4 linked regions of the Homo sapiens genome follow. The protein of the gene in region 1 purifies or fractionates together with the protein of each later gene. This does not show direct contact. Each region holds a gene or a part of one and is shown in the gene's direction. Other genes may lie near its edges. The genes, in order: ARMC1, DNAJC11, SYN1 and SYT1.

Evidence for each region.
Region 2: the proteins of ARMC1 (region 1) and DNAJC11 purify together in Homo sapiens (affinity purification with mass spectrometry; 6 studies listed by BioGRID and IntAct, with this or other methods). This does not show direct contact.
Region 3: the proteins of ARMC1 (region 1) and SYN1 purify together in Homo sapiens (affinity purification with mass spectrometry; 3 studies listed by BioGRID and IntAct, with this or other methods). This does not show direct contact.
Region 4: the proteins of ARMC1 (region 1) and SYT1 purify together in Homo sapiens (affinity purification with mass spectrometry; 3 studies listed by BioGRID and IntAct, with this or other methods). This does not show direct contact.

The regions. Positions count from the first base shown.
Region 1 is NC_000008.11:65,631,178-65,638,743, reverse strand, and holds the start of ARMC1 (armadillo repeat-containing protein 1), read left to right. Parts: upstream 1-4,566; 5' UTR 4,567-4,746; intron 4,747-4,818; exon of another isoform or gene 4,819-5,846; intron 5,847-7,566.
Region 2 is NC_000001.11:6,691,773-6,698,816, reverse strand, and holds part of DNAJC11 (dnaJ homolog subfamily C member 11), read left to right. Parts: intron 1-7,044.
Region 3 is NC_000023.11:47,571,367-47,574,867, reverse strand, and holds the end of SYN1 (synapsin-1), read left to right. Parts: intron 1-92; coding exon 93-180; intron 181-277; coding exon 278-866; intron 867-1,868; coding exon 1,869-2,004; 3' UTR 2,005-2,967; downstream 2,968-3,501. Other genes in the region: ARAF (serine/threonine-protein kinase A-Raf), read right to left, coding at 3,411-3,501. UniProt on the Homo sapiens protein: Neuronal phosphoprotein that coats synaptic vesicles, and binds to the cytoskeleton. Acts as a regulator of synaptic vesicles trafficking, involved in the control of neurotransmitter release at the pre-synaptic terminal.
Region 4 is NC_000012.12:78,860,066-78,867,789, forward strand, and holds the start of SYT1 (synaptotagmin-1), read left to right. Parts: upstream 1-4,708; 5' UTR 4,709-5,044; intron 5,045-7,724. UniProt on the Homo sapiens protein: Calcium sensor that participates in triggering neurotransmitter release at the synapse. May have a regulatory role in the membrane interactions during trafficking of synaptic vesicles at the active zone of the synapse.

The DNA.
Region 1 (7,566 bases):
AGCTTACAAAGGATCTTTCCTGGAAGTTGAGACCCTTTTCCTCTAGTTCTGTTTTTTCTTTCCCCAGCTCTAATTGCCCCCTGGAGAAAATGTAACACACTGAAATAAGCTTCAGGAGGTTCTGCATTAGAATATAGGAATGGATGGTAAAAGATTATTGGGTAGGACGGTGAAGTGCCCTTCTGAAGGGTGCTTTGAGACACAGTGAGGCTAGATGTGTCTGGGAGAGGCTGGGCTACAGGAGAGCTGGTCAAGACCAGTTAGTGGGCCAACTTCATCTCACCTGAGGCAAGAGTCAGTGATGCATGCAGTGCCCATTGACTTCAAAGCTCCTTTAATTACTAATAAAAGCACATATTGGGCTGGGCGAGGTGGCTCACGCCTGTAAAATCCCAGCACTTTGGGAGGCCGAGGCGGGCAGATCACCTGAGGTCAGGAGTTTGAGACCAGCTTGGCCAATATGGTGAAACCCCATTCCTATTGAAAATGTAAAAAGTAGCCAGGTGTGGTGGTGCATGCCGTAATCCCAGCTACTCGGGAGGCTGAGGCAGTAGAATCACTTGAATCCAGAATGCAGAGGTTGCAGTAAGCCGTGATCACACCACTGCACTCCAGTGCACTCCAGCCTGGGCGACAGAGCAAGACTCCATCTCAAAGAAGAAAAAAAAAAAGCACATATTGTTGGGAAAAGATAACATTTTAATCTGCATTTATTATCTAAATCTCAATTTGAATGAATGTTTTTACCATGGTGCCCAATGAAAAATTGTTGAGCTATTTTGTTTCAGTCATAGACTTTGGGGCATATTTGGTTGTTCTGAGTCTTGAAACAGTTTAATTCTTCTTAGATCAGTGCATAGTGACCAGAAAAAAAAAAATCTATATCCAAATAGGTTAAAGGATCACCACTTTCCAGAGATTGTGGTATTCTTTTCTATAAACCAGCTCTTGGGATTGACCCTGACCTATAGAGCTGTTTTTCTTTTTTTGAGACAGAGTCTCGCTCTGCTACCCAGGCTGGAGTGCGATGGTGTGATCTCTGCTCACTGCAACCTCTGCCTCCCGGGTTCAAGTGATTCTCCTGCCTCAGCCTCCCAAGTAGCTGGGACTGCAGGCGTGTGCCACCATGCCTGGCTAATTTTTGTATTTTTAGCAGAGACGGGGTTTGGCCATTGTCGGCCAGGCTTGTCTGGAACTCCTGACCTCAAGTGATCCACCCACCTCGGCCTCCCAAAGTGCTGGAATTACAGGTGTGAGCCGCCACGCCTGGCCAGCTGCTTTTTAAAACAAGTCCAATGTATCCATTTTTTTTCTTGTTTAACTTTTGGGTTTCCAGTTTTGTTCAAGGTTTCCCTCTGCTTCTAGGTCATATATGTAGTCTTCAAGGTTTGAGTTTTTAATACACCTGGAATTTATTTTTTTGGTAAATGATGTAATATATGGATCCAATTTTATTTTCATCTGGATGGGTAGTGAGAGCTTCAATTTATAAATATTTCTCTTTCTTTAAAAATTTCTACTTTGACATTTTCAAAACTACATATTAATTTGATAGTACATGTATAGAATTTAGGAATAAATACATATAAATATGTCAGAGCTATGTACTCGAATACATATATATAAAGCTGAAAGTGTTGCCTGATCAAAAAGTTTTGAAATCCACTGTTTCTTGAGCTCTTTAGACCATGAGCTGCTTGAGGGCAGGGATTGTGATTTTCCTTACCTTTGAATCCATAGTCAAGATTGTCTATGGCACATTGTATGCGTTCAAAAACCGGTTGTTAAATAATTAAATGAATGAAACTGCCAGTATCTGAATCATGTCTTAAGCAACACAGCTACTGAGAAACGACATTCCAGTGTCCCGTGGGAAGATACCTGAGGCTAAGAACAAGCAATGACTCACAATGGGAGGTAGTATAACTTCACTGGTGTCAAGCTTAGACATTTTTTATTTTTTTGAGACGGAGTCTCGCTCTGTCGCCCAGGCTGGAGTGCAGTGGTGCGATCTCGGTTCACTGCAAGCTCCGCCTCCCGGGTTCACGCCATTCTCCTGCCTCAGCCTCCAGCTGGGACTACAGGCGCCTGCTACCACGACCGGCTAATTTTTTTTTTTTTTTGTATTTTTAGTAGAGACGGGGTTTCACCGTGTTAGCCAGGATGGTCTCCATCTCCTGATCTTGTGATCCGCCCGCCTCGGCCTCCCAAAGTGTTGGGATTACAGGCTTGAGCCACCACGCCCGGCCAAGTTTAGACATTTTAATATGGGAATACAGATTATTAAAATCTTTAAATACCTCCCTAAGGCTTATAATCCATAGGTGCTTAGGAAACTGGTAATTATTTTTTTGTGAACACACCCCCTGCTTCTTAATAGCAGTCATCTATTCTGTAATGGCAGTGTGCAGGAAGAATTACTTTTCTCAATAATGGCAGAAGCATGATTATATTTAGTATTTATTTATTTATTTATTTTGAGACGGAGACTCGCTCTGTCTCCCAGACTGGAGTGCAGTGGCACGACCTCGGCTTAGAACCTCCGCCTCATGGGTTCAAGCAATTCCCCTGCCTCAGCCTCCGGAGTAGCTGGGACTACAGGCGCCCGCCACCACGCCAGGCTAATTTTTTGTATTTTTAGTAGGGACGGCTGACCGGGCGCGGTGGCTCACGCCTGTAACCCCAGCACTTTGGGAGGCCGAGGCGGGCGGATCACCTGAGGTCAGGAGATAGAGGCCAGCCTGACCAACATGGAGAAACTCCGTCTCTACTAAAAATACAAAAATTAGCCGGGCGTGGTGGCGCATGCCTGTAATTAGGGAGGCGGAGGTTGCGGTGAGCCGAGATTGCGCCATTGTACTCCAGCCTGGGCAGGAAGATAGAAATTCTGTCTCAAAAAAAAAAAAAAAAAAAAAGTAGAGACGGGGTTTCACCATGTTGGCCAGGCTAGTCTCGAACTCCTGAACTCAGGTGATCCACCCACCTCGGCCTCCCAAAGTGCTGGGATTACAGGCGTGAGCCCCCGTACCTGCCTTCCTAATATATTAACGTTAACAAAAATAGCAAGTTTAATTTCCTGGGATTTTTTTTTAGTTGTTTTTAATAACTATACTGAAGAAAGTAACTCAACCAAATGGGTTATGTTTAACCTGGCTGTGCCCTTTGGACTTTTTTTTTTTTTTTTTTTAGACCGTCTCGCTCTGTTGCCCACGCTGGAGTGCAGTGGCGTGATCTCGGCTAACTGCAATCTCAGCCTCCCAGGTTCAATCGATTCTCCTGCCTCAGCCTCCCAAGTAGCTGGGATTACAGGCGCCCGCAACGACGCCTGGTTAGTTTTGTTTGTTTGTTGGTTGGTTTTTAGTAGAGACAGAGTTTCACCATGTTGGCCAAGCTGGTGTCGAAATCCTGACCTCAAGTGATCCGCCCACCTCGGCCTCCCAAAGTGCTGGGATTACACGCGTGAGCCACCGCACCCGGCCTATTTGTTTTCTACTTAGCTTATTTTGCTCCTATTTTGAGTTCATTGGAAGCAAGAGGATAACCGAGAACAAGGGAACGGAAAGAAATTCAAGAAGTAGCTGCTTGGTTTTTAAATTCAAGAAGTATAGGAGATATTAGCATTGAATACAATCTGGGATATTTATTGTTATCCACACTCTTTTCCTATTAGAGGCCTCTCATATTCCTTCTGACTTTAATACATGAGCTACGTGGCCGAATCAAACTGTTATGGAGAGAATCCAGAATCTGTTTATTGGGGTTATTGACTGCAATGGATACATTATTCTCAAAGATCTGCCTGCGGGTTAAGAGTAGGTTTGTATTTAAAGAAATTAAAAAAAAAATAAAATCTATGCCTAAACAAAAACTTCAAGTGATTGCCATCCATAAAACAAGTATATAAATCCTTACTTTGATAAACTACATAGAAGATATTTTAAAATATGAATTTGAGAAGATTGTGATAATAAATTCCTTACAAGAAAAAAAAAAAAACCTCTTCCCCAAAATAAATTGCTACTTAAACGAAAACTGTACTTTGCGTCTTTCAAGCTGCTAGGGAGACAGTGGACACCAAGAAGAAATAAACGAAAATCCAAGGAACGCCTAATGTAGTGCTAACGTCCACAGTAAAACACAAAACAAAAAAAATTTATGAATTAAGACTCACAGAAGCGAATAAAATATTAGGTATTGCCTTTATTAGAATTGCAAGAGTTGCTAAAGAAATACTCAATTTGAATTACCGAATGCAGGACCGGAGAAGTCCTGCTGGCCCCACAAAGCTGGGTATTGAGGTTGTGAAGGTGTGACAGTTTCCCAGCCGGAATCAAATTTCTTCGGTTAGGGCTTGGTGGACGGCGAGTAGTTAGGGCCAATATAGTGTTCCTGGGTCCTCATTGGATCAGTCCCTTGACTCTTAGTGTATTTCCCTAAACCACCTATGAGCGCTTCACTCTAAAAAGACCTTCACTGATTGGATACTTTATCCTCACGTTGGACTCATTATCAGCCAATAGGAGGGCATAAGCGACAGAGGCGTCAGGTCACCTGGGAAGAGTCTGCAGAGCCTTTGCCCGCCAGCGCCTTCGCTCTTTGGCTCCCTGAGTTAGTCCGGTTGCTTGCGATCGCCGCGGCCGGGGCTGCGAACCGAAGGGCTCGCTCCGCGCCGCCTGGGTCTCTACCTCATCCGTAGGTGTGGCCCTGATGGTGTGGCAGGCTCTGGACTCCTAAAGCTCTGGAGCGGTATGTGGGGTCCACGGGCGGCAGACAAAGCAGTGGAGCCGGGAAGGCCGCGGGAAGCGGCCCCTGTACCGAGGCAGCGAATCCGCCTGGGAGGGGCGCCCCGCCTGCCTCTTGTCAGATCCAGTAGTGGGTCCCAGTGAGGCGCTTTAGCACGCTCTACCCCCACGTGTCCCGTGAATCTGTTAGCTTTGCTCATTTCTTCTTTGTCCCCCCTCACATCTGACTTTTACTAACCCCAGTATTATTAATGGGTGTCATCTCATCTTTTCATCTCTCCAGGTTATTCTTTGGTAACTTTCTGTTAGTTTTGTGCACCTGCGTGTCTCCTAAGAGCGGAAAGACATAGTTGTGTTAGGCTTAATTCAAGAGAGACCAGTGTTCCCATTTTTATATTTAAGACTGTGTTTTGGGAGGGCGGGGGTAGGTATTCGTGCAGTTAGCAACTCCTTTCGTGATACTTAGTGCACTGAAGTGTCAGGGCAGTGCAGAAGGTACCTCCAACACCTGGCAGGACAGATGTCCCCACATGAGCAAGTAGTATTCTGGTTTGGTAATTGCTGGTGTTTGATTTTACCATTTCGCGTTCTTACTTTAATCTGATAACCGCTGAGGATTGTTATGTGAGATAACTGAGGCTCTAAGAACTTAACTTCTCAAAGTTACAGTTAACTCTTCGAGTAAGGGGAAAGTCAGATTTAATATCAATGCTTATGTTATTTTTATCAAAGCCCACCTAACTGAATAAGGATTTAGGTTAAACGTATTCCCTCTGCATCTCTTGGCATGTGAGAATTAAATCTTTGAATTGAATGGTGAATCTTGACTGTACGAGAAGGAAAAATCTTGCAGGCATCTGCCTAATTACAGGTGTCTCACATGTATCTTCTAACTGCTTGCTTCTCAGAGTGTGACAAGTAGCATAGGCCTCACCTGGAAGCTTGTTGGAAATGCGGAATCTCAGACTCTCCCACCTACTGAATCAGCATTTGCTTTTTAACAGGAACCTTTAACTGACCAGAGTGCTCATTAAACGATGAGAAGTATTCTTTGTCATAGAATGATTTGTTTGTCCAAGTTGAACTAAACAAGAGAAAGTAAAGGTATAAAAAGTCTTTTCACATTTTCATCATTTGTTAGTGAGGCTATGGTCTTTATTTTTTATTTTTTTTTTTGAGACGGAGTATCGCTCTGTCGCTCAGGCTGGAGTTCAGTGATGCGATCCCGGCTCACTGCAACCTCCGCCTCCCGGGTTCAAGCGATTCTCCTGCCTCAACCCCTGGAGTACCAGAGGCCTTGGCCTCCCGAAGTGCTGGGATTACAGGCGTGAGCCACTGTGCCCGGCGTCTTGTAGAGTTTTATTTTATTATTACTATTATTATTATTTTGAGACGGTATCTCGCTCTGTTGCCCAGGCTGGAGTGCAGTGGCACAATCTCGGCTCACTGCAAGTTCCGCCTCCCGGTTTCACGCCATTCTCCTGACCCAGCCTCCCGAGTAGCTGGGACTACAGGTGCCCCCCACCACGCCTGGCTAATATTTTGTATTTTTAGTAGAGACGGGGTTTTACTGTGTGAGCCAGGATGGTCTCAATCACCTGACCTCGTAATCCGCTCGCCTCGGCCTCCCAAATTTTATTATTATTATTATTATTTTGAGATGAGCTGTCACTCTGTCGAGCTCCCAGGCTCAGGTGATCCTCCCACCTCAGCTTTTGTATTTTTAGTAGAGATGGGGTTTTGCCATGTTGCCCAGGCTGGTCTTGAACTTCTAGGCTCAAGAGATCCACCCCCCTGGGCCTCCCAAAGTGCTTGGATTACCGGCCTGAGCCATGGTACCTGGCCATCTTACAGAGTTTTAGAGCTTAGCATTTTATTCATATGTTCATAGCCATGTTTAAAAGAGATGCATTTATACAGCAGCATAAAGTTTTAGTGGCTCTGCCACTGCCATCCAGCCTGGGCAACAGAGCGAGACCCTATCTTAAAAATAAAATAAAAATTATTTTGCACTTTGCCAAATTGGGCATATAGTGGGTAGGATAGACTGAATCCTGAAATATTCATTTAAAATCATTTTTTCCAACCTATGAAGATAGACTTTTTTTTTTTTTTTTTAAGAGACAGGGTCTTGCTATGTTGTCCATGCTGTAGTAAAGTGGCTGTTCACAGGCAAGATCATAGCACACTGTAGACTTGAACTCTGGCCTCAACCAGTCTCCTGCCTCAGCCTCCTGAGTTACTGCACCCAGCAAAGGCGGACATTTTTATCAAACAGCTTGAGTGTGTGAAGTTGATGAAATTAACACAGAAACATAATATGTATCTAATACATGATTGGGGTTAGAGTTGTAACTTTCGTTTATCTGTTTTCAGTTTCCTAACTGTTCTATTGCTATCTCATAAAATCTGCTTTGTGAACGCTGCAATCCACAGAAATATTGATCATTTAACAGAATTCAAGCAATGGCCAGGCGTGGTGGCTCACGCCTGTAATCCCAGCACTTTGGGAGGCCGAGGAGGGTGGGTCACCTGAGGTCAGGAGTTCAAGACCAGCCTGGCCAACACGGCGAAACCCCGTCTCTACTAAAAATAAAAAATTAGCCGGGCATGGTGGCAGGCACCTGTAGTCCCAGCTACTTGGGAGGTTGAGGCAGGAGAATTGCTTGAACCTGAGAGGCAGAGGTTGTGATAAGCCGAAATCGTACCACGCCACTCCAGCCTGGGTGACAGAGTGAGACCCTGTTCCCCCCCAAAAATTCAGGCAATGTGGTAGTTAGAAATGGATGTCAGAGTAACTTGTTATCATCAAGAATATCAAGGT
Region 2 (7,044 bases), on another chromosome or scaffold:
GCACACACCACCACAGCTGGCTGATTTTTGTAGTTTTTGTAGAGACAGGGTCTCACTGTGTTGCCCAGGCTGGTCTCAAACTCCTGAGCTCAAGCAGTCCACCCATCTCAGCCTCCCAAAGTGCTGGGATTACAGGCATGAGCCACTGCACCCAGCCAAAAAATATTTCTTAAATTTTTTTTTTTTTTTTACTTCTCCCAATGAGTGAAGGCACTTTCCATATTTATGGCTATATGGCTATAGGTTAAATCCATATGAAACATGCTCCCTTGCAGAAGTCACTTTCTGTTGTCTTCGTCAGCAAACTCGGTGTTAAATGTCATACTCAGGTGTGGTGTGCTGGTTTTCCATCCCGGGATTCCATTAGAAGCTCTGAAGGTGATGTCTGAACTTGATATTTGCTGGAATTTTTTGTGTGAAATCAAACGTGAAGTTGAAATAACGTGATTTAGTTGGAAAAAAGTCAGAGTAATCTTAAATCTTAATGTGTGGTTGGAAGAATATCTTAATACCTGTTTGTGTGTTTGCTGTCAGTTCTAGAGTAGTTGCCATTTAAGTATAGCTGTGAGAGGCAAGGCCCTGTTCCCACTGATACTTCAAAGTACCTTCAAAAGAGTGTCCTCAAAACTCTCAATGTTCAGTAGAGTTCAGAGAGTTTTCTTTAGAAATCTCAAATGGAAACAATTCTAGACAAAACCAGGGAATCCTACTTTAAAATTATAAGCATAGGCTGGGCGCGTGGCTCAAGCCTGTAATCCCAGCACTTTGGGAGGCCAAGACGGGCGGATCACGAGGTCAGGAGATGGAGACCATCCTGACTAACACGGTGAAACCCCGTCTGTACTAAAAATACAAAAAATTAGCCGGGCGTGGTGGCGGGCGCCTGTAGGAGGCTGAGGCAGGAGAATGGTGTGAACCCAGGAGGCGGAGCTTGCAGTGAGCCGAGATTGCGCCACTGCACTCCAGCCTGGGTGACAGAGCAAGACTCTGTCTCAAAAAAAAAAAAATTATAAGCATAATAGAGGTATATAATTGGATTAATATAGAAATGTCAACAATCAGCTGAAGAATCTCCCTCTCCAGGATTTAAACTTTAAAATATCCCCTTAAATTTGTATTCTAGAGCAGGGGTCCTCAACCCCCTGGCCATGGACCAGTACTGGTCTGTGGCTTGTTAGGAATTGGGCCGCACAGCAGGAGGTGAGTGGTGGGCAAGCAAGCGGTTAGCGTCGGGCAAGCAAGCGGTTAGCATCGGGCAAGCAAGCATCACCGCCTGAGCTCTGCCTGTCAGATTGGTGGTGGCATTAGCTTCTCATAGGAGCATGAACCCTATTGGGAACTGCACATGCAAGGGATCTAGGTTAGGTCCTCTTTATGAGAATTTGACTAATGCCTGATGATCCCAGGTGGAACAGTTTCATTCCACTCCCACTAGTCTGTGGAAAAATTATCTTCCATGAAACCAGTCCGTGGTGCTAAAAGGTTGGAGACCCCATTGTTGCCGCCGTTGGAGAGAGTGAAGCAGGCAGCTGGAAAGGACCCCCCGTTCTCCTATGACAAGACACATGATCTTTAATGATTCTCCTTCTAGATTTCCTGTTTACAGAGCAGGGCCATCATCTGTCGTGCCTGCCTCACACTGAGAGGAGGGAGTACTTTATCACTCACTGGGCACACCAAAGCCAGACAGGTTTTCTGGTTTAGTGTTAGATGCATCATCTGGTTCCTAAAATCTCACTCCTCTGAGATTTCCAGGATGATTTTCCAAAATTTATTTGGAGAAAGGATTCCTTAACTATAAATCAGAGTTAAATTTACCTGATCCATTAATTAGGAAATTTAATTGACACATTTCAAACCTAATTTATTCCCAAGACAAATGGCTACAGTTCTAACTTTATCATTGTCTTTGAAAGAATTTCATTTTTGCAGTGTTTGTAACCTGTTTGAAGACCTCTGGTCCCAATTGTTTTAACCTTAAGGAGCCATCCTCCTTTTCAACTTTTAAACACTTTTGGAAAAACACAGTTAAGTAAAAAATGAAGTTGTTAATAAATAGTTTTTTTCTTGCAGTCCATATATGGAGGTCAGTGTTCTGAGATCTTCATCCTTCCAGAACAGCCATGAAACTAGAAGTACAAAAGTATCACCTACCAGTAAAAAGTTTACCCCAAGTCCCTGCATTTTCATTCCTTCTCTGGTACAGGGTAGATCATTATTTTCACAATTGTGTGTTGTTGGGGTTTCCTTAGCTGCAGGTTACAGCCACAGAGTGAGGCCCAACAGTTGAGTTTGAGCTGCAGATGGAAAGGAAGGGCTAGAAGAGTAGAGGAAGGTCCCCTGGTCACTGGCAAGATTGTCCTAGGGTCAAAGTCACCCACAAAGAAGGAGACAGCAGACCCTCCAATCAGGACCACTGACTCAGCCATCTGCAGAAATTGACATGTAAAAGGCTCAACTGTGCCAATTTGAGCGACTCAAATACCTAAAGCAGTGAGGTGGTGTGTGTTTACACATTTATTGCTTTCTTATCAAACTTCATGATGGGCAGTTAATTTTGTCTTAATAAAAAATAAAGATGGCTCTGAAAAGGTCAGTTCCTTCATTTTCCATCTACTACATTATGTTAAAGTTTGATATTTATAATGACTCCAGTTAAATGTGTGCCTCAGGCACATAGAATTAAGCCTCGGTTGTCCAAAAACAACTTATTCAGATGTCTGCATTCCATAGGGTGTTCTGTAAGCCAAGAGGCTGAGAAGCAAGAATTTCAGCCCATGCTGCCTGCCTCTTGTGTGACCTTCAACGAGTCATTTAACCTCAGCCTCTACTTACCTGCAGAATGGAGGCACCAGTACTTCTTAGTTAACAATGGGATAGAGGGAGGCCACTATGTAGGGCTTTGCAGCTGGAGTCCAGTATTCAAATCCCATTTTACTCTTCTGGAAGTTCTATGCTTCAACGCTAGTAATTTAACCTTTCTGTTTCTCAATTTCTTTTTTTTTTTTTGAGATGGAGTCTCACACTGTCACCCTGGCTGGAGTGCAATGGCGCAATCTCAGCTCACTGCAACCTCCACCTCCTAGGTTCATGCAATTCTCCTGCCTCAGCCTCCCAAGTAGCTGGGATTACAGGCACACACCAGTACACCCGGCTAATTTTTTTTTTTTTTTTTTTTTTTTTTTTTTTAGTAGAGATAGGGTTTCACTATGTTGGCCAGACTGGTCTCAAACTCCTGACGTCGTGATCCATCCGCCTCGGCCTCCCAAAGTGCTGGGATTACAGGCATGAGCCACTGCACCTGGCCATCAGTTTCTTTAATGTTAGAATGTAGGTAACAGGTAATAATGGCTTAAGCACTTACTGTAGGCCAGGATGACCTGTGTGGTATGTGCGTTGCTAGGTGCTGAGAATGTATATAAATTGCCTGTCATAAGTAGGTATTTAGTTAATATATATTGTTATTTCTTGGATTTTGATAAGTTTGAAGTTTTGCTTACTTTAAAAAAAGACATAAGGATTGGGGGGTGGCTCACACCTGTAATTCCAGCACCTTAGGAGGCTAAGGCAGGAGGATAACTTAAGTCCAGGAGTTTGAGACCAGCCTGGGTTGGCATAACGTAGCAAGACTCCATCTTTAATTAAAAAAAAAAATTTTTTTTTTTTTTTTTTTGAGAGAGTCTCGCTCTGTCACCCAGGCTGGAGCGCAGTGGCACAATCTCGGCTCATTGCAAGCTCTGCCATCTGGGTTCACGCCATTCTCCTGCCTCAGCCTCCCGAGTAGCCGGGACTACAGGCACCTGCCACCACGCCCAGCTGATTTTTTTTTTTTTTTTTTTTTTGATTCGGAGTCTCGCTTTGTTGCCCAGGCTGGAGTGCAGTGGTGCGATCTCGGCTTATTGCAAGCTCCGCCTCCCGGGTTCACGCCATTCTCCTGCCTCAGCCTCCTGAGTAGCTGGGGCTACAGGCCCCCACCACCATGCCTGGATAATTTTTTTTTTTTTTTTGTATTTTTAGTAGAGACGGGGTTTCACCGTGTTAGCCAGGATGGTCTCGATCTCCTGACCTTGTGATCCGCCCGCCTCAGCCTCCCAAAGTGCTGCGATTATAGGTGTGAGCCACCGCGCCCAGCCAAAAAAAATTTTTTTTAATTAGCTGGGCATGGTGGCATGAGCTGTAACCTGTAGTCCAGCCTAAGGTGGAGGTGCAGCCGAAAAGCAGGTCAGTTGTTTACCGCATGCAGAGTCCAGTTAACAAGAGTGAGGCGCATACAAAGCCAGTGAATTTACTCTGAAGTCAGCTTGGGGAAGGGGCACGATGTCCTGCTGTACCGCTTCACTTTTAGAGCAGAAAGCAGGCACTTTTATAAGGTATAGGAGGAAATGAGCAAGGGCAGGGGTCCCCCTGCTATCTGGGTACTTTATCTAACTGGCAATTGAGTTGGCATCTTCCTGGGCAGAAAGAAGTAAAAGTGGCCATGGGGACATGATTTGGTCTGCAAATCCACTGTCAAGAGATCCGTCTTGGAGCACGTAGTTAGCTGAACTTGCCCCATAGAAGATGTCTGGTGAGGGGGAGGGGAAAGGTTATATTTGCATTTCTAAAGGGCTAAGTAGGAAGCAGGGTACCGGGGAAAGGGGGAGAGGAGAAAATAATTAAACTATCTCTTAGAAAAAATGGGGCTGGGCATGGTAGCTCATGCCTGTGAATCCCAGCACTTTGGGAGGCTGAGGCCAGCGGATCACTTGAGGTCAGGAGTTCAAGACCCACCTGGCCAGCATGGTGAAACCCCATCTCTACTAAAAATACAAAACTTAGCCAGACTTGATGGCGGGCGCCTGTAATCCCAGCTACTCATAAGGCTGAAGCAGGAGAATCTCTGCTGGGAGGTGGAGGTTGCCGTGAGCAGAGATCGCACCACTGTGCTCCAGCCTGGGCAACAGAGCGAGACTCTGTCTCCAAAAAAAAAAAAAAAAAAAAAATGGGGGTACTTGGTTACAGGAGGATTGCTTGAACCTAGAAGTTTGGGGCTGCAGTGAGCTGCAGTCACACCACCACACTCTAGGCTGGGCGACAGAGCGAGACTTTGTCTATAAAAAGCGAGACTCCGTCTATAAAAATAATAATAAATAAAAGGCTGGGCGTGGTGGCTCATGCCTGTAATCCCAGCACTTTGGGAGGCTGAGGCGGGTGAATCACGAGGTCAGGAGTTCGAGATCAGCCTGGCCAACATGGTGAAACCCTGTCTCTACTAAAAATACAAAAACTAGCTGGGTGTGGTGGTGGGCGTCTGTAATCCCAGCTACTCGGGAGGCTGAGGCAAGAGAATTGGTTGAACCCGGGAGATGGAGTTTGCAGTGAAGCAAGATCGCACCACCACTGCACTCCAGCCTGAGCGACAGAGCAAGAATCCATCTAAACGATAATATAACAATAAATAAAAATGTGAAAGACATACATGTACATAAATAAATTTAAAAATGTGAAAGACATACTTGGTATGCTTCATCCTGGCTAAGGATGAACTTTGCTATCCACTTGTAATATTACTAAAAATCATAGTGCTAGAATGTATGCTAAGCATTAGTTTATGAAATTCCTGAGGTTGGGTGTGGTGGCTCACGCCTTACAGTCCCAACGCTTTGGGAGGCGGAGGCGGGCAGATCACCTGAGGTCAGGAGTTTGAGACCAGCCTTATTAACATGGCGAAACCCTGTCTGTACTAAAAATACGAAAAAAAAAAATTAGCCGGGTGTGGTGATGCTCGCCTGTAATCCCAGCTACTTGGGAGGTTGAGACAGGAGAATTGCTCAAACCCAGGAGGCGGAGGTTGCAGTGAGCCAAGATTGTGCCACTGGACTCCAGCCTGGGCAACAGAGCAAGACTCTGTCAAAGAAAAAAAAAGAGGCTGGGCGCAGTGGCTCATGCCTGTAATCCCAGCACTTTGGGAGGCTGAGGCGGGCAGATCACCTGAAGTCGGGAGTTTGAGACCAGCGTGACCAACATGGAGAAACCCCATCTCTACTAAAAATACAAAAATTAGCCAGGCGTGGTGGCAAATGCCTGTAATCTCAGCTACATGGGAGGCTGAGGCAGGAGATTCACTTGAACCCGGGAGGCAGAGGCTGCAGTGAGCCAAGATCGTGCCATTGCACTCCATCTTGGGCAACAAGAGCAAAACTCCATCTCAAAAAAAAAAAAAAAAAATTCCTGAAGCATTTTTTACTTTCTGTTCAAAACACTGAGTTTGTTCTTTTTAAAAGACAGTGATCTCTCTGAACTTGTGCTTCCTGGAAAGTTGACATGGGGATAGGGAGCTTTCCTGGAAGTTGGGGCTAAGTATGGGAGTAGGGTGCAGGCTCAAGGATAACATTTTTTGGGTGTTTGGGGTAAAGATAGGATAGTTGTGAGCCAAGCAGAGAGGAGGCAGAGCTGGGGGCAGGGGTGGGCCCAAGAGGGTGCCCGGGAAGTGGAGTTTAGAGAAGCTGCCTGTGTGCAGGGAGGGGGCTGTTGAGGATGCCCCACCACTTCCAATGTCATCTCATAATGTGATTGGCAAACGTGAGGTTACATTTCACAATGTGTTTCTTTAATGATCTATAAGCCAGTTATTTTCTGCTTTGGGCATTTCAAACAATTGCTTCTTGAAATGTTAATGCTCTAATTTTGCATTATCTACCAAAACACCTCTTTTATTTTCTTTCTTAAAGAGAATTCAATGGAAAACTTTTGTATTTGCTGTGAATTTAGTAATAAAACAATGGAAAACGGGACATGAGAGCAACATGCTTTGCTTGGCTGTAGAATTTTATTGTCTGCTTTTTATTAACCTTTCATTTTAATTTTACTTACTTACACCTTTGTTTAAGAAAGGATGTAAGACAACAGATGAAAAAATAAAATAGCATATATTTTTTAAAGGAGTCACACATTTCTTAAAAAGAAGACAATTGAGAACATTGCTGCATTATTACCACTGTTACAGCATATGCCTGGTACAGATTGCAGTCCCTGGAAGGAGCTTGCAGCTTGGAGTGGAACCTC
Region 3 (3,501 bases), on another chromosome or scaffold:
CCCAGCGCACAGGGAACCTGTGTCATCACTGGCTGATGCTCCACTGGCTGGTAACTATTTTTAACCTCTCCTGCTCCATTCCTCTGCCGCAGACTCCGTCCCCAGGGGCCCTGCCCTTGGGCCGCCAGACCTCCCAGCAGCCCGCAGGGCCCCCGGCTCAGCAGCGACCCCCACCACAGGGTAAGCGAGAGGCTGGCGGTCGCAGTCCCCTCCCTCAGCCCGCCATCTCTTACCCGCTCACTCTCACGTGTGCTCTTTCTCTCCCTCTGTCCCCCAGGCGGCCCTCCACAGCCGGGTCCAGGCCCCCAGCGCCAGGGACCCCCATTGCAGCAGCGCCCGCCCCCGCAGGGCCAGCAGCACCTTTCAGGCCTTGGACCCCCAGCTGGCAGCCCCCTGCCCCAGCGCCTTCCAAGTCCCACCTCAGCGCCCCAGCAGCCCGCGTCCCAGGCCGCGCCGCCGACCCAGGGTCAAGGCCGCCAATCCCGGCCAGTGGCGGGAGGCCCCGGGGCGCCTCCAGCAGCCCGCCCGCCCGCCTCTCCGTCTCCCCAGCGCCAGGCGGGCCCCCCACAGGCTACCCGTCAGACATCCGTCTCTGGCCCGGCTCCGCCAAAGGCCTCTGGGGCCCCACCGGGCGGGCAGCAGCGCCAGGGCCCGCCCCAGAAACCCCCAGGCCCAGCCGGCCCCACACGCCAGGCCAGCCAGGCGGGTCCCGTGCCCCGCACTGGGCCACCCACCACGCAGCAGCCTCGGCCCAGCGGCCCGGGCCCCGCTGGACGTCCCAAACCACAGCTGGCCCAGAAACCCAGCCAGGACGTGCCGCCACCCGCCACCGCCGCTGCAGGGGGACCTCCGCACCCCCAGCTCAAGTAAGGGGACCCCTACAGCAGCCTTCGCCTTGCTGCTCACAAAGCGGGCCGCTGCCCCAGTAGAGCAGCCCTAGCTCCCTTGCTCCTCAGACCCAGGTCCTATGCAGGGGTCCCACGAACTCTCTCCAGCCTGAGCCAAGCCCTTCCCCCAAGCTTTCGCTCCTCCCGGCCCACCAGAGGCTCCGCACCCCCACCCCAGGAATTTGGTGCCAGAATCCCAGAGAAACTGCACTCAGTTCGAATTCCTCCTCAAAGGCCCTGGGAAAGTTTCCTCCTCCAGGGCCTCCCAGGCACCTGGCTGACCCACCCTCTGCAACTTCCTGCCCAGCCCAGAGCCTTCCCTGCCAAACTCGCCCCCCCGCCACCAACCCATCCCTAAAACTCCTGGCCCGAGTCCTAGTCCTCCTATCATCTGGCTCTTCCCACTCCATCCTCATACTTTTCCTCCTCCTTCACATCCTTCTGGCCCATCTCAGTCTCCCCGCGAATCATCACCCATCTGCCTTTTCTGGTCCATTCCAACTCCCATCCCAGCTCAGACGTCCTCCCTGCCCCACCCAGCTGCTCTGCCTTAGGCTGACTTGCCCAACAGCCTGTCCTTGGTCCAAGCCCTTTCTATGCCCTCCTAGACACCTCACCCTTAGATTGGAAACTTCCCTGCTCATCTTCCCCTTTGTATCAAACTAGCCAAGAATTCACAGAGAAGGTTCTGCCCAGGACTCTTGCCACGAATCCCACACTTCACCCTGGATCCAAGTCCTCCCAGCCTGTCCCAGATCTCGCCTCCCTGGCCCAGGACTCCACCCACTCCACCTGAGTGCTCCCAGCCTTGAGAACCTGTTAGGGTCCAGGCCCATGGTGGCAGGTGGGGAGGTCACAGGCACAGCCCCAGGATCAGAGGGGCAGGGCTGGGGCTGGGCCTGGGGTAACGTTGTGTTTCTCTCCCCTTCCTCCCCTTCCTCTTCCCCCTTCCTCCCACGCCTCCACCTTGTCTCTCTCTAGCAAATCCCAGTCTCTGACCAATGCCTTCAACCTTCCAGAGCCAGCCCCGCCCAGGCCCAGCCTTAGCCAGGACGAGGTGAAAGCTGAGACCATCCGCAGCCTGAGGAAGTCTTTCGCCAGCCTCTTCTCCGACTGATACCCCACTCTGAGAACCCCAAAATCCCTGGGCAACCCTTCTCTGGGCCCTGAATCCATTTCTCACTTTTGGAGTCTCCAAATCCCTTGAGAACCCATCTCCCGGTTCTCCAAGATTCCACCTCTCATTCCTCAAGATCCCCGAGTACCTTGAGAAACCTGACTCCTCCTGGCCCTAAATCCGGTTCTCACATGTGGAATCCCCAAGTCCTTTTAGAACCCCACTCGTGGTCACTTCAGGATCTACTTCTGTTTTAGAACCTCCACATTCCTGAAGACCTCCGCCCCTGGTTTCCCCAGAGGGCGTTTTCCTTCCTGGAAGTGCCCAAATACCAGGCAACCCATTGCAGAATCCCTTCCTGGAGCCCTGAAGTTCCTGGAAAACCCTATTTTTGGTCCCAAATCTCTCCAGCACACCTATTTCCCATCATAATTTTCCAAATCCTCAAGAAACCCCTACTGTTGAGCCCCTTCCCATGGATCTTCCATCCCTCTGAAGATCCACATCTTCAAATGCCACCCAACACCTAGCCCCACAAGGATTTCCCTTCACCAGCTCCCCTCAACCTCATTCAATACCTTGGGAGCCCCTCCCACTTCCAGGACCCCTCGGTTCCCCCAGGGACCCCCTCCCCAGTTTCCTGCCTCTGACAGCTGTCTTTAAATATGCAAACTCCACCCATCTTCCCAGAATCCTTTGCACACGGAAGGCCAGTGGTCTCCGCTTCCCCACCTTTGCTGTGGTGTCTGTGTCTGTGACTGACGTGGCCTCCTTTTGTGCCGTGCTTGGCATATGTGGTCCTCGTTCATCGTGCCGCCTGTGGTGATGCGTGCAGTGACGCTGTTTATGTGGTCCGCACCTCCCCCTGACCTTCACTCCTTGCCTGGACTCACCCCACCCCTCAGCGGCTCTGAACCCCAAGAGAAGAGTCGGGAAACAAAATAAACAAGCAAAGGCCCAGCAGAATTCTGTGCTTCTTGGTGAAGAAAGAGAGGAGTCCTTGAATGGCGGGGGAGACACAAAAGGGACCCCCCAAAATCCACATGGGGTGCTGGGAACCCCAAAATCCAGTGGAAGGCACATCAGGCACAAATTCCAGAGAGGTTCTGAGTGGAATCCCTGCCACAAATCCCAGCCATTGGAGATGGAGGAGCTCCCAAAATTTAGAAGTATCCCCAAAGCCAAGAGGAAACCAAATGATGGAGGAGACAGGGGGCTCAGTCTTTGGCGGGGGTCCCCCAATTCCAGAAGAACTGGAAAAGCACATGGGGACCCCCTCATCTCCCAGGGTGGGGAATGGGGGATCCTGAGGCAGCATCAGGGCAGAGACGAACATTGATTGGCTGGTGGGCAAGGCTCCTTGGCGTGGAGGGCTGAGATTGGCTCCCTGGTGGCTTGGGCGGGGCCTAAGGCACAAGGCGGGCTGCGCTGAGTAGGCAGGCAGGCAACTCATCGGCCTGGGTGCGGTGCAAGGAGGGTTCCGAGGCACTCCGCTCA
Region 4 (7,724 bases), on another chromosome or scaffold:
CTTAATTTGAAAGAATAATATAAACAAATGTTTTTATGAAAAAAAAGCTTAAGTATCCATCCCTAAAAACTAAATTATTCATCTCGTAGATGATTACAGTGTAAGACTACTACATGCAAGACAGATGACTGTTGTCATTTTACGTATTAAAAAAGTTCTGTATCCAGGCGCGGTGACTCATACGTGTAATCTCAGCACTTTGGGAGGTCAAGGTGGAAGGATCACTTGAGCCCAGGAGTTCAAGACCAGCCTGGGCAATATGGCAAAAAAAAAAAAAAAAAAAGAAAGAAAGAAAAAAAAAATTAGCCCAACATTGTGGCATGCACCTGTAGTCCCAGCTACTAAAGAGACTAAGCTGAGAGAATCACCTGAGCCTAGGAATTGGAGGATGCAGTGAGCCATGATTGAGTCACTGCGCTCTAGCATGGGCTACAGAGTTAGACACTGACTCCTCCCATCAAAAAATAAATAAAAGTTCTTATAACATGAATTAACACCCTTCTACCTTTAATGCTCATAGGTGAGGAGTCTATGGCTCACTATTGGCTTAAATGGATGAGATGATGGGAGGAAACCCAATAACCCAGAAATCTGGAAAAAAAAAATAGTAGTAGCAGAAGTAGCAGCAATGATAATGATAAAATGATAATAATAGTCATTAAGTTCTTGCTATGTGCTTGGAACTAGCACTTTATGTGCACTGCTTTTTTTAATCCAGAAAAAAAACCTAATGATAAATGTTGTATTCTTATGTACATATTTTAGATGACAAAACTGAGACTTGGAGGGGTTTTGTACATTTTTCAAGGTGGCATAGCCAATTAGTGGTGAAGCTGGAATTCTACCCAAATTCTGACACCAGAAAACATTTAATTAATTATCTGTCCTGCAAAGAGACCAAAAAGTCAGTATCTTGAGAAACACAGATATAAAGTGAAAAGAATAGTAAGATCTGCATCTATATAAAAAATAAACAAAAAAATAGAAAAATTTAGAGAAGTCAATTATTTTTCTTTTTTAAAGAAACAATCCTGGGTAATGATATTTATAAATAGCTTTTACCAGACAACTACTGTGGCTACTAAAGATATAAAGTTTAATGATGTATGAGTCTTAATTAAATGTAACTCTTTTTTTATTATTTATTTATTTTGAGACAGTCTCGCACTTGTCACCCTGGCTGAAGTGCAGTGGCGGGATCTCGGCTCACTGCAAGCTCCGCCTCTCGGGTTCACGCCATTCTCCTGCCTCAGCCTCCTGAGTAGCTGGGACTACAGGCGCCCGCCACCACGACGGGCTAATTTTTTGTATTTTTAGTAGAGACGGGGTTTCACTGTGTTAGCCAGATGGTCTCCATCTCCTGACCTCGTGATCCGCCCACCTCGGCCTCCCAAAGTGCTGGGATTACAGGCGTGAGCCACCGCGCCCAGCCGGATTAAATGTAACTCTTTAGTATCATTGATCAACCAGGTAATTCTGGCCTTTCCAACAACCTGCAGAATTTTCTTGATACCTCTCTCACGTTAAGTATTCTTTCTGTGGTTTACAGAAACCTTGGCTAAGTTTCCACTTAATGAATTTCTAGTTCTAATGTCCCTAATTCCCACTCTTGCCATAAGACACACTTTCCTCCTCAGTGCCCCAATCCAATTTAGTTTCTATTCTGATCCTGTAGCCTAAAATAGATGGCAAAGGAAGCATGAAAGTAGTAAATAGATGAATCCAATAAAAAAGGAATAAAGAAAATATTGAAAATGAGATCTTGATCAGAGCAAAATGTGAAGAAAAATTAATAACACTTTTTTAACGAAGAAAGAGGAAACAAAACATTAAACAGATTTTGTAAAAGTTCTGAAAATAATATTTTTAAAATACCATACAATCAGGGGATAAGTTAATTCTCAACAGCAAAAGTACTCTAGATGTAAAAGTACTTAAGAAATGGAATGATAAGAGTGACAAAGAGCTCTCTCTTTGTCTCTACAGAACAATTGACCCGATCTTCCTTTTAATAAAAATGAGTCTGCTTCAATAGGCAAAGAGATGATACACACTTGCGGCAAAGTATAATGTTGTGTCAGCCCAGTAGATCCAGGAGGACGTCTTCAACACATTCCCAAGAGCTTGGAGAGAATTTAGGAATAGGAGGGAGAGTTAAAATCTTAGTATAGCTACAGTCACCATATAAATAGAGTCTTCTTATTATTTATGTACAGAAAATGTTATCAATTCTAAAGTTAAGCACAATATACATGTAAAGCCCATTTCTTATTTTAACCTGCAGTCTCCCTCAAGGAACATTGGGTTACAAACTTCTGATACCATTCATGTTGCCAAGGATTCTGGCCACTGAAATAGAAAGATTGCTAGGTAAGATGTGAAGTAAACAGGAAAAGAAATTGACTAAAATATTAATGACAAAATCAGTGTCTGGAGCAAAAATTTTAAAATCTGTATTTGTATTCTATTGACTAATTTATTCTAAAATAAGCATACTTTTTTTCTACATGCAGCTATTGGTAAATAGGATAAATGTGCCAGTTTTAATCACTGGAATCTAGAAAGTATGCTAGGCATATATTTAGAATAAAGATCTATATTAAGTGGATATTATAATAATCTTCTCATCCAAAGATATTTATTGGACAACAAAATTACAGGGTTACTTAATTCTTCTTCGTCTTCTCTTCCTCCTTCTTCTCCTTTTCCTCCACCTCACCATCCTCCTTCTCCTCCCCTTCCTCCTCCTCCAACTTCTTCTACTTTTTATCCTGTCGTTTTTCTTCCTTCTCTGTCTTCTCCTCCTCCTCTCCTTCACTAAATAACTGAAATAAAATTTAGACCAAATTCTTTTATCTTATTTCTCCAACTATGAAATGATTTTAAAATAAGGTTTGGAGACTATTTTGGAAAATGGAAAGTGAATATTTACATGAAGTCACAAGTCTGGGGTGCATTATTTTCACACTTCTACCTCTAATGTTAAACTTCCTATTATTCAAGCATAGCCCAAATACAAGTGTTTGTCACTTAGAAGGATATATTTATATCACGTTGCCTTCTTTTCCCGTATACTTAGAATAAGGATCTTAATCTTAAACATTACATAAGTAGAAGAGATTTAATTAAAAACTTGAAGAAATGTGTTACTGTTAATTGAATTCTTGCTACATTTACCTTTGCACACCAATGTTAATAAAACTCCAGTTCAAAGTGGATGGGTTTGGGGAATTGAGATAGCTATTTATTTCCCTACCTGAGATGCCAAGATAATCTTCTCAGTAAAATAAAGAACCCAATTAGGAGAGTTCTCATTTGTAGCTATTGATCAAGTTTACACAAAATGCTAGGATTTCTAAATAAAACAAATAAGAGGTTCAAAGGCCTTTAAACGAGGTTGAGGGAGGGAGAAAGGGAAATAGTTCTCTCCGTTTTGAAATCCTTTCACCTGTGGAGCAGATAATGGACGGGCCCCTCTCCCAGCTGGGCTCCGCTCCCGCCCCTAGCCTGGCGCGCGGTCCCTTCCCCCACCCGCTGAGCCTTCCTGTTCGGTATTTCGGTATTACCAAGCTATAAATTGCCTGAGAGCTTAGAGACAATCAGGTCACCACCGCCCTCACAAGAGAAAAGCTTCTTACTTCCGAGCAGAACGGTTCAGCTGGGAAGAGAGGAAGCAGGGAGAGAATCTATGCTTTAGTCGTCACTGCTCTGGCAAGGGGTCGAGAGAGATGGGGGAGGGAGGTGGCAAAAAATAAAAATGAAAAAATAAAAAAGCATCTCCAACAATGTTGCACTTGACCCAAGTGTACAAACTTATTGGTCGCTGCAATGGAAACTCCCAGTGCACTCTCCACGGCCTGGCAGCCGCCGCTGATGGGTGGAGTCGCGCTCCCGGCCCCACCTATGGGACGGAGCTGCTTCTCCCGCATCTCGGCTCCACCGCACCCTTCGCGGGAAGTCCCCAGGCTTCCAGCAAAGCTCAGCTTATCCCGCCCCCGCTTCCAACCCGGAACCCCAGAAGAACAGCATGATGAGCCTCCGGCAGCCAGGTGGGCCACCTCCCCGCGGCTCAGTTTGAGGACACTTGTGCGGAACCCTTTCACATCCCCACCCTACCCAGCTTTCACAACTCCGCCGGGTTAAATGGCCAAAGACAAACTTCTACCTCTCCTGTCCCCGGTCCCAGCTTTTCAAAAACCCACAGCTGGCGAACCCACACACATCGAAACTCCTAGGTCGCTGTTGCAGTCTGGGCATGCTCAGTATCAGGGTAGGTTTTGATTGAGAGTAAAAAAAAAAAAAAAAAAGCTTTGTATTATGCTCTCTTTCTCCTGTGCATACTGCTTGCTGAACAGCTTGTGGGGCATTCCTGAGTCTACCTAGAGGTTTTATCAGACGCCCTTGATTGTGTCTCCTTGGGATCTGTTCCCCTCTTACTTCACCCCCTCCCCCAACCCGCCTCCACCCCGCTTCCCAGGTCCCTGTCCGCTGTGGGGATGGAGAGACACTAACAGAACTGGGATGGGCGATGTTGGCTGAACGGATCCACCTATTATTAGTGCGCGGGGATTGGCTCCTTGGCGCAGCGTACCCGAGGTGGAGCCAATCAGGATGCTGGGGCTCGGAGATGATGGGCGGCCGCCTCCTCACTGGAGGGATTCCTGGAGAAGCTGCAGTGTGGGGATGCTCTAGACCGAGTACTGCCCCCAGTGTCTTTCCACCTCCTCCTGCAGCAGCGGCAGCGGCAGCAGCAGTTAGCAGCGGCAACTTGAGGCTGCACCCCGGGCAAGTCCCCAGGGTGGTGCTCAGCCGAGAGGGGGGCTTGGCGCCCCGAAGGGGTGTGTGTAGGGTGGGGGCGACCACGTGGGACCAGCTGGTGGCCCTGGAAAACCTCCCACACACCCACACCCACACACCCCTTTTGTGTTGCAGGCTGCCCCTCCAAGAGCGGAGGCAGCGAGAGTACGCGTGTGCCTCGCGCCGGTCCACGCGGGGAGAGCACTGGGGACCGAGACCCGGCACCACCTCCCGGTCCGCCCTCCAGGTAAGGAAGCGGGACTGGCGGCGCGGCCACCTCGGCGGTGCCTATCTGCTCGAATCCATCCCAAAGATTTTCTTCTCGATACACTTGGGTTTTAGTGGTGGGAGTCTGAGACCTAGGGAGGGATCCCCGGGTGGCCTATTGTGAGAAATATGAGACTACATGTGCATCTCCTGGAAAAGCACTTTGCACAGCGCCCGTGATTTAGAGCCTGGAGTTGATGTTGGGCATCCCCCATCTTCTTGCTTCCTCTTTCCTTCTCTTGTTCTCTCTCCTCCGTCCCCCACCCCCAATCTCAATCTTTTCTCTCTTTCTCTCCCACACCTCCCCTCTCGCCCTCCTCCCACCCTAAGCACGCACAGCGTTTCTTTCTCCTCCTGGAGAGGATTGCCTTTCTTAGAGGAAAGAGGGGGAGTGAAGAAAGGAGAAAGATTTCTTTCTGTTGGGGAGAGGGATATGGGGGGGGGGGGGAACGTAAACAAGATAGAATACAAGCTCTGCGAAAATCAGAGCACATAAAGCAATTAAACTGAATAAGGGGAGTAGACAACCAGTCCAGCTTGGGCTGTCAGAGAGAGGAAGCGTCAAGTTTGACTTGATTTCCTCCTTGCAAGAGTCTATGTCTCTCACTTGATTCGTTCAAATGGAACAAAAATAAACCGACAATCCAACCCACTTTCAACTGCTTAATTGCTTTTGCTTTTGAGTGCCAACCATCTGACTTTTCCTGTTTCCATCTGTCCTGTGGGGCTAACAATTTGGTATTGCACATCAGTGTTAATATCTGAACTTTGAAAGCTTTCTTGAGTAACAAAAAAAAAAAAACAATTAAAATAGATTATTACTTTCCTGAGGTTTCTTGGTATGGCCTGTTGTTGGGGGATCAAAAAATGTAAAGTTTCAAAACATTTGCAAGGGACAACAATTTTATAGGGAGGCTTGGATTTCTACTTTGAGAAAGCTAATCTTCTAGTTAGCTTTGTGTACATGTTGATATTCACTTTCTCCAGTATTAACCCTTTCGTGAAATAAAGCAACTGTTTAACTTTTGTATGGAAGCTACATTTGTGTAGAATTTTCACTTTATTCTACCTTTGTACTATTTGCATTTTATTGTCTGGATACCAAACTTATGCCTGGCTTTATTTTCTTTTAATAGGACAATATTTAATGGATGTAAACATGATGTTTATACAATTTCAGCACTCCCTTTAGAAGGCACATGGAGGCTCAGTTGGACAAGAATCCTCCTGTACTGGAACTAAGTTTAGAAAGTAATGCTAGAAAGATACCCTAAATTTTAAAAATCCTGAAGGGGAAAACATTTTTGTAACGTCTTGTTAAAAGAAAGAAAAATATATCAAAACACCAACATGCCCCTGGCTGCCTGCATAATAGGTCAAGTAAATGGTACTTGTTGGACAGAGCCTTTACAGCAGCTTCAGCAGTCTCTAATTCCATCATTGGGGATATAAGCTTTCTTTTCTTATTATTCTTCAGGGACAGCTAAGCGATAGTACTGTCAGATGGAAGGAGGTATAGAGAAATGCCTCGTTTGATGTAATAGGAAAGCATTCCAAGTGGGTCTTACCTGAACACAGAGAAATCCACAGATGTTAGTATACAAAACACTTCTTTTTATTTATCAGGGGAAATGCAGAGTCTTACTTTTTTTTGTCTAGAACTCCACTTGATATAAGAAAAGAGAATCTTCTATCTTAACTGTGTCTGACCTTCCACACTAATTTTGTATCTCAGAGAGTATTTTTTCACTACGTACGTTTAATATATAAGTTTACACACCAACTTAGAGAAGAGCTGAATTCATTTGCCATCAGTGTAATGTGTACTATTTTCCAAACCATTTTGCATTTGAGGCAATGATCTCTCCCTAAATAGAATTACCAAGTCACGAAAAACGATTTTCTTTCTAGGGCTTTGACATTTAAATGAAAAAAAAAAAAAAATAGTGTCTCTGTTGAAAGCTAACTCTGGTTTTTAGAGGTGCCACCTTTTGGTTACAAGGACAAAGGGACAATCACTTAATTACCTCACATGTATGTACAACTGAATTAACAAGTTTAGACATGAAAAGATGTACAAAAAGGAAGCCAGCTGCCTTCATGTGAGAAAATTAAGATTTTGTTTTCTCATTTCTCCACTGTCTTAGGAATATGTGAAAATTTAGGCTTGGTTTGTGACATTTATTTTCATGACTCTTTACAAATGTTAATTATAGAAATAACATCTAAAAATATGGATATGAGTAGTTTTTCAAATACTTCTAAAAAATTCAATATCTGTGTATTGGAAATCAGAACTAATTCCAATATATAGTGAGTGGATTGGGGAGAGACCTTACATGATATATTATAGGAAATTCTTACTTTGTTATCCCACAAAATAGTCTAATGTCACAATTTCATACAATCTTTGTTTTTTCTCCCTTTGACAGGATATTTTAGTAAATCTCATTAATGTTTCAGAGTAAATATGATAATTATGCCTCGAGGTATTTTTGTCAGAATTGAAGACTGCTAATATATAGGGAAAATCCTAAAATACTAATTTCACAAAAATACCACATGATTGAGAGTTGTTGCTGAGTAGTTTTGAACTTCATTTCATAATGGAGAATATTAGTTATTTCATCTGGTCAAATTATCAGATAGTTCTAATCAAC